Regions from separate parts of the Homo sapiens genome. Here region 2 is reported to be linked to region 1. The links are microRNA targets in miRTarBase. Many come from high-throughput screens and were not tested one by one. Region 1 holds a microRNA gene; the other region holds the end of a gene's coding sequence.
What was found. The annotated mature microRNA hsa-miR-6882-3p reads UGCUGCCUCUCCUCUUGCCUGCAG and lies in region 1 at 1,579-1,602, shown strand. An mRNA with a match to its seed (bases 2 to 7 or 8) in the 3' UTR can be bound and repressed. Matches are read on the target gene's strand: a 7mer-m8 pairs with bases 2 to 8, a 7mer-A1 pairs with bases 2 to 7 and ends in A, and an 8mer does both.

Region 2: miRTarBase lists PGK1 as a target of hsa-miR-6882-3p. Seed matches in the 3' UTR shown: 7mer-A1 at 2,867-2,873.

The regions. Positions count from the first base shown.
Region 1 is chr15:74,838,008-74,842,243 of GRCh38, reverse strand. MIR6882 (microRNA 6882) reads left to right here and starts at 1,537; the gene lies at 1,537-1,602. It overlaps ULK3 (unc-51 like kinase 3), which reads left to right. Exons shown (of 16, transcript NM_001099436.4): 3 at 49-169; 4 at 735-839; 5 at 1,603-1,746; 6 at 1,928-2,010; 7 at 2,531-2,686; 8 at 2,871-2,976; 9 at 3,194-3,234; 10 at 3,499-3,601; 11 at 3,740-3,804; 12 at 3,900-3,978; 13 at 4,052-4,092. RefSeq lists an enhancer at 1-94 and a silencer at 2,571-2,718.
Region 2 is chrX:78,125,606-78,129,241 of GRCh38, reverse strand. It overlaps PGK1 (phosphoglycerate kinase 1), which reads right to left. Exons shown (of 11, transcript NM_000291.4): 11 at 1-3,452. The coding sequence ends at 3,412. Among named protein-coding and RNA genes, the nearest start is that of TAF9B, 12 kb to the left of the region's middle.

The DNA of each region.
Region 1 (4,236 bases):
TGGAGAAGGGACACTCTCTTCAGGCCGCCTCTCTGCCTCTAAACACAGTGGGACAGTGACAATATCTACCTCATCATGGAGTTTTGCGCAGGGGGCGACCTGTCTCGCTTCATCCATACCCGCAGGATTCTGCCTGAGAAGGTGGCGCGTGTCTTCATGCAGCAATTAGGTAAAGGCCTGTGACACCAGCCTGACACTCTGTCCCTTGTTCTCTGCCCCCCACCATCCCACCCCTCCCCCAGGCTTAGAGCCTTGGCACGCATTGCAGCTGCCTCCTGCACAGCCTGAAATTTTATGGTCCTGTTTATCTCATACACTCAACCCTTGCTCAAGGACGCTGTGGGAGAGATGAGGGGGTAACCCCTCTGTGGGGTGTTCAGGCTTCCATACATAGAACATAATATAAGGACCTTGTAGAACATTCCAGAGTCCTGTAGGTAGGACTCAAGTGCTGTGCCAAGGAAAAGAGCAGGATCTCAAGGGCTGGGGCATCCAGAGAAGCTTCTGAGAGGTGGGGAGACTTGTGAAGGGGCAGAGGGAAGGAGGGTGGGCACTCGGGTGGGGTGGCAAACTCCTAGAAGTGGTGTGATCTTGGTGCTTATATGGAAAACATTAGACCAGCCAGGCAGGAACTGGGGTTGTGCAGGCTTGAGGAGGCAGATGTGAGCCGGGGAGGCGAGAGGCAGGCGGGAATGGGCTCTGAACTGTCTCTCTTCGTGGGTCCTGCTCCTCAGCTAGCGCCCTGCAATTCCTGCATGAACGGAATATCTCTCACCTGGATCTGAAGCCACAGAACATTCTACTGAGCTCCTTGGAGAAGCCCCACCTAAAACTGGCAGGTCTGTGTCTGAAACAGCAGGGATGAGGTTTGGAGAGTGCAGAGGCCTCCCTCTGCCTGGGCTCACTCAGCAGCCCTGGTTCTTATGGAGCCCTCTATAGAGTCCTCAAAGAGTGACAGGCCGTGAAGTCTGGGGTTGGGCCCTGTCATCAAAAGGTGGAAGCTTTCTCAGGCTACCCATGCTCAAGTCCAGCAGCATAATGGGTGGAGTTAGGGCTCAGTCTGTGGCCAGAGTTGGGACTCACTGTGTGTCCAGGTTTAGGGGTCAATCTGGGAACAGTGCCAGGGTTCAGCGTGTGACAAGCATCAGGGATCCCTCTGTGGGCAGGGACAGGACTTGGTCTGTCATCAGAATTGGGGCTCAAGTCTGTGACTCCATCTGTGGCCACATAGGAGGGGTGTGGTGGGGGAGTAGGAGGTGGTGACCCTTGATAAGATTTGGATAATTGACACTGGAGGCCAGAGACTGTGATAGAACCTAAGCCTGGGGGGACAGTGAGAGGGTGGGGGCTTATGCAGGTAGCTGGTGTGATCAGGTGGGCTTCCTAGGAAAAGGTGCCCAAGGGAGCTGGGAAGGATGGGTAGGTTTTATACCCCAGAGGCAGATATAGGAGGGTGTTCCAGCCTAATGATGAGCAGAGGCTTGGAAATAGGGTTGATCCTGGCGGGTCTGGAGGGTGGAGAGGAGCCTGGGGTGAGGCTTTACAAGTCAGGAGCTGAAGCAGCTGGAATTCAAGCCCTGCTGCCTCTCCTCTTGCCTGCAGACTTTGGTTTCGCACAACACATGTCCCCGTGGGATGAGAAGCACGTGCTCCGTGGCTCCCCCCTCTACATGGCCCCCGAGATGGTGTGCCAGCGGCAGTATGACGCCCGCGTGGACCTCTGGTCCATGGGGGTCATCCTGTATGGTGAGACCTCTTTTCCCTGCTTCTCACCCTGAGGCCTACAGTTTCCTCAGGCAAGGCCTCTCTGGGCCACTTCTGAAGGGTTCTGATGAAAACTGACTGCTGGCCCAGGGCCCCTGCTGAGGGGCGTCAGGCCAGGCTTGACCCATTCCCTCCCAGCCTCCGCTCTGCCTCCCTTCCACAGAAGCCCTCTTCGGGCAGCCCCCCTTTGCCTCCAGGTCGTTCTCGGAGCTGGAAGAGAAGATCCGTAGCAACCGGGTCATCGAGGTGTGTCTAGCAGGGCCTTAGCGACCACTGGGGGGCAGAGGGAGTCAGGGCCCTGAGGGTTTAGACCTCGTTCTGACCTGCAGAGACTGGAGTATGGGCTCCAGGCTGCCTTTGTGGTGGAGGGGCAGGTTCTAGGCTGGAAGTCGAGGTGCCAGGCTGTCCCAGGGCCTCAGGTCAGCCCACAGCTGGCAGCACAGTGCCCATTTTGCAGGCCCTTGTGGGGAGAATGCAAAGCAGAGCCAGGCCCAGCCTTCCTAGGAGCATAGTCCAGGGAGGGAAATAAGGACCCAGAAACACGATTCTAGCTCAGCTCAGGGCTCCAGCGAGGGTGCACCGGGAGCCCAGGGATGGAGGCCTCGCTCCCCGCTGGCTCCATCATCCTGACCCATCCTGTTCCTCCTCGGTCTCAGATTCCCCACCTGTCCAACGCGTACCTCTGGGGTTCCTCGCAGACCCCTGGGCTAGGGGTAGGGGTGGAGGAGCCCAGTGTGATCTGTCCCTGCCGTTCCCTTCCCTGCAGCTCCCCTTGCGGCCCCTGCTCTCCCGAGACTGCCGGGACCTACTGCAGCGGCTCCTGGAGCGGGACCCCAGCCGTCGCATCTCCTTCCAGGACTTTTTTGCGCACCCCTGGGTGGACCTGGAGCACATGCCCAGTGGGGAGAGTCTGGGGCGAGCAGTGAGCAGACGGCTGGGGCTGGGGTGGGCTGAGGGTGGGCTGGAGGTCTCCTTGCCCCCGTTGGTGGTGAATTGGTGACTCACCCAACAGAGACAGAGGGCGGGCTCAGGGGAGCTGATCTCCCATCTTGGTGAGTGTGGGAGGGTAGGGAGGTGGACCTGACCCCTGATCTGCCCATCCCCAGACCGCCCTGGTGGTGCAGGCTGTGAAGAAAGACCAGGAGGGGGATTCAGCAGCTGCCTTATCACTCTACTGCAAGGCTCTGGACTTCTTTGTACCTGCCCTGCACTGTGAGTCCCAGGCCATGCCTGAAGCCCGTGGGTGCAGCAGGGATGGGAGTCATCTGTGGCTGCAGTAGGTGGATTCCAGAAGTTCTCTATCTAGAATTTTGTAGGCGATAAAGCAGAGCGTAAACCTGGAATATTGTGTTTTGAGGGATTCCAGAGGGTTCGTTGTGGGGCAGGGAGGGGTTCGCCCAGACTCCTCATATGACCTCACTTTCTGCAGATGAAGTGGATGCCCAGCGGAAGGAGGCAATTAAGGCAAAGGTGGGTGAGAGTCCCCATGAGGAAGTGGGGGGGCAGGGGGTAAGGCCCGGAGATCTCGGGGGCCTCTGGGGAATGGCTCTCTTAGAATTGGAACTTCCTCTCCTGCAACACAGAGCTGGGAATGGGTCAGGCCAGCCACATTTGCCCCCTGACATGTTTATAGCTTGAGGCAGTCACTAACAATGCAAAGGGAGAACTTGGAGGTGGGTTCTGGCAAGGGTAGCTGGTGAGACAGCCCCTCCTCAGGCCCTTTCCCTGCTACAGGTGGGGCAGTACGTGTCCCGGGCTGAGGAGCTCAAGGCCATCGTCTCCTCTTCCAATCAGGCCCTGCTGAGGCAGGGGACCTCTGCCCGAGACCTGCTCAGAGGTAGACTCCGGTTTCTGGCTGACCCCAGGGCCCCCAGCAAACCTCCCCACAGCCTGAGGGGGAGGCGGGTGGGGAGAGGCATCCTGCAGCGAACAGGCAGGTTGCTTCCCTCACCCTGAGCCTTTCCCCTCATCTCAGAGATGGCCCGGGACAAGCCACGCCTCCTAGCTGCCCTGGAAGTGGCTTCAGCTGCCATGGCCAAGGTTTGTGCCAGTGGGAGGGGTCCAGGTGGGTCGGGGCAGGGCAGGGAGATACCCAGGCCATGACCCTAAGCAGCCTGGTGTCCTTGTGGCTGCAGGAGGAGGCCGCCGGCGGGGAGCAGGATGCCCTGGACCTGTACCAGCACAGCCTGGGGGAGCTACTGCTGTTGCTGGCAGGTGAGGGCCCCCATTTATGCCCCCCACAGGGCCTCTGGCCACCCTGTCCTCACCACACACCCTCTCTTTACAGCGGAGCCCCCGGGCCGGAGGCGGGAGCTGCTTCACACTGAGGTGCCCACTGAGCTTGAGAGGGTTGGGGGGCTTCCTCTTCCCCTTTCTCTGCTCTTACCTGTGGGGACCTCTTTGGGTTCCCTCTGGAATGTCCCACTGTCAGGGTGTTCCAAGTCTGGAAGTCAAACCATAGGGCTGGGGTGC
Region 2 (3,636 bases), not on the chromosome of region 1:
GATAGATAGATAGATAGATAGGTACACACATGGGTATGCTCTTTATGCAGAGTCTCACTGTTGCCCAGGCTGGAGTGCAGTGGCGTGATCTCGGCTCACTGCGAGCTCCGCTTCCCAGGTTCACGCCATTCTCCTGCCTCAGCCTCCCGAGTAGCTGGGACTACAGGCGCCCACCATCACGCCCAGCTAATTTTTTGTATTTTTAGTAGAGACAGGGTTTCACCGTGTTAGCCAGGATGGTCTCAATCTCCTGACCTCATGACCCGCCTGCCTGGGCCTCCCAAAGTGTTGTTGGGATTACAGGCGTGAGCCACTGCGCCCGGCCTCTTAATGTATATTAAATAGCCTTAGATTGAAAGAAACTGGTCTTCCAGAGGTTGCTTCTGGGGAGGGAAACTGGTAGGTAGGGGACTGAGGAAGGTGTCTTCATTGTATACTCCTTTTTGATCATGTGTAAACCCCTGTGCTAGAGGGAAATTTTGGAAATGAAGAAAACAGGAAAACACTGAGCTAAAGAACCAAATTGTTCACTTACGACATGGGAATTATTTTTTTCTGCATATAAACACACATATATAGTCTAGGGTTAAAGGTGAATTTACAACTTAAAGCATACACCTTTGCAATATTTTACCAATAATTCATAATTCCAAATTAGAAAGCACATCCTTATACTGTTTTGTGGGGTTTTTGTTTTGAGGCAGAGTCTCACTCTGTCGCCCAAGCAGGAATGCAGTAGCGTGATCTCAGCTCACTGCAACCTCCACCTCCCGGGTTCAAGTGATTCTCCTGCCTCAGCCTTCTGAATAGCTGGGACTACAGTGGCACACGCCACCACGCCCGGCTAATTTTTGTATTTTTGGTAGAAACGGGGTTTCACCATGTTGGCCAGGCTGGTCCCAAACTCCTGACAGGTGATCTGCCCGCCTTGGCCTCCCAAAGTCCTGGGATTACAGGCGTAAGCCACCATGCCCGGCCCCTTATACTGTTCTAGCTTATATGCACACAAGTTATCTACTATCTTCTTTGGTTAGGTTAAAAATTCCTTCAGAACATAAATGCTCTTATATTCCCTCTATCACGTCTTTAAGCACATAGAAGGAACTCAAATATTTGCCTAATTGACAAGTTGTTTATGACTGGAGATTCCCCCATTCATTCTTTAGGTTAACAACCCAAATAAATGAGGGGTGATCCTGGAAACAGTCCAGTAGAAAGTACTTAAAAGGTACAGTCAGAGATTGTTGGATAGATAATGTTGGCAATTGTAGAGTCTAGGTGCTGGGTTTATGGGAGTTTATGCTTCTTTCAGTTCCATTTGAAATAATTTTTAAAACGTTGGAGGAAAGGTAATCAGTAGGAAAAAGTCACAAAAATTGGACTAGAATTCCTGAGTACCCATAGAGGTATGCAGAAACATGGTACAATTTAAAATTAACTACAAATATGGGTACAGTATTAACTAAAATACAAATGAAGAAAAAACTTGAGCTTTCAAATTTCTGTTTTGTTTAGAGCAACCACCAAAATTTTCTTTTGCTATTCTATCCAGGGTTAAACAAAATAGTCTAGAAGCATCATGTCAGGGATAGAGTCTAGAAGCATCTATAGCCTAGAAGCATCATGTCAGGGACGGAGGCACATTGGAAAAGCATCAGCCACTGGAACCAGACAAACCTGGACTTGAATCCCTGCTGTTACTTACTAGCTCTGTGGTCCTGTCCAAAAGTTTATTTCTTTGTCCCTAAAGGTGAAATACATATCTTTCCAGCACAGAATTTCTGGTCAGACATGGCTTTTTCAAATCATGTTTACCTCTGCTCTCTCCCAAAACTCCATTAAAAGGACAGGAAAGAAATAGGAAGGTAAAATTATAAAGATGATGAAAGAATCCGAATGGCCATTTAGATTCTCAATAGTGACAATGAAACAGTGGCTTCGAGTCTCAAAAAGTGATACTCAGGCTAAAATTCTATATATAGCCAAACTAGGAATCAAGTATAAGGGTCGAATAAAGACATTTTCAGACTTACAAAGTCTTAGAGATTTTGCCTCCCAGGCACCCTTTCTCAGGAAGCTAGTAGAGTCTTGTGTTCTACAAAAAGTAGACCAAGAAAGAGGGAAAAGGGGGAATCCAGAAAACAGGAGTCTAACACAGGAGGTAAAAGAAATCCCCAAGAAGGTTATAGGAAATACCAGAGCAACAGCTAGCTGTACACCCTGCCTAGAGGGCATCAAGTACAAATTGGATAAAGGAGCACTAAGGACTCCTGCAGGGATAACTCTAACAAGGATTATTCAATATGTTTTAATATATTGAGACACTTATGCTTCTAGAAGATTTGGGAATGAATCACTGATGGGTATACACAGAAAATTTTTTGAAACACTGTTAATGCCAAAGACAATAAAAGTTACATAAGTAAATTTAATCATAGCATACTACATAGCTCAGCTGTATTAGTTATGTAGACTTTTGATCTAATCTATAATTGTGACAAAACTATACCGAGAGAATGAAGAAGTGGAAATATATGTGGAACAGAGCCTTCCTCCATGGTATGAAATAGATTTCTTTAAAAAATAAAAAAAAAAGAAGTGAACAATATAAGCATATTACTTAGAAACATGGAGGTATATACCTGAAAAACTCAAGAGTTGAAAGTGGTCACCTCTGGGGAGTGGGAATCTTGAATGGGAGGAATGGGCTGGGGCTTTTTTGTTATAAGCCTTGACTTTTTAAATTATGATCATGTGTAACTGATAAAAATAAAAGTTAGAATAAAAGCACTAGCACAATGTCTGCCATAAAGTAGGCCCTTGATAAAGAATGGACATTTATCTAATTGTCCCATCTCTCCACTGCTGCTGCCCCACTTCTTGCATTCAGCAATATAGACATCTGATCCGTTCCTCAAGATTCTATTCTCACCCTTCCTAACAAAGTATGACAGGAAAAAAAAAAAAATCACGGTTTCAATGGACACTTTTATTGTTTACTTAATGGATCATCAATTTTGTCTCACTACCTACAAATGGAATTTCATCTTGTTTCCATGCTGAGTAGTGAAACAGTGACAAAGCTAATCATAATAACCTACATCAAAAGAGAACTAAGCTAACACTGCTCACTTTCTTTTTAACAGGCAAAATATAAATATATGCACTCTAGAATGCACAATGGTTTAGTCACTAAAAAATTCAAATGGGATCTTGAAGAATGTATGCAAATCCAGGGTGCAGTGAAGATGAGCTGAGATGCTGTGCAACTGTTTAAGGGTTCCTGGCACTGCATCTCTTGGCCACTAGCTGAATCTTGACATGGAAGGTTTTAGCTAATGCCAAGTGGAGATGCAGAAAATGCTAAGTTGACTTAGGGGCTGTGCACAGGAACTAAAAGGCAGGAAAGTACTAAATATTGCTGAGAGCATCCACCCCAGGAAGGACTTTACCTGTTTTTGAGAGAGCACACATACATAGACAGCATTACTATAGGGCCCAGTAAGCCAGATTTCCCCCACTTTATCTTCCCAATAACATGCCAGCTCTTTTTTAGGATATATGGCCAGGAGCTGGCCAACTTTTACATTGTGGATTCCAGGTCTACTAGACCATAACTCTCAGACCAAGTTTCTA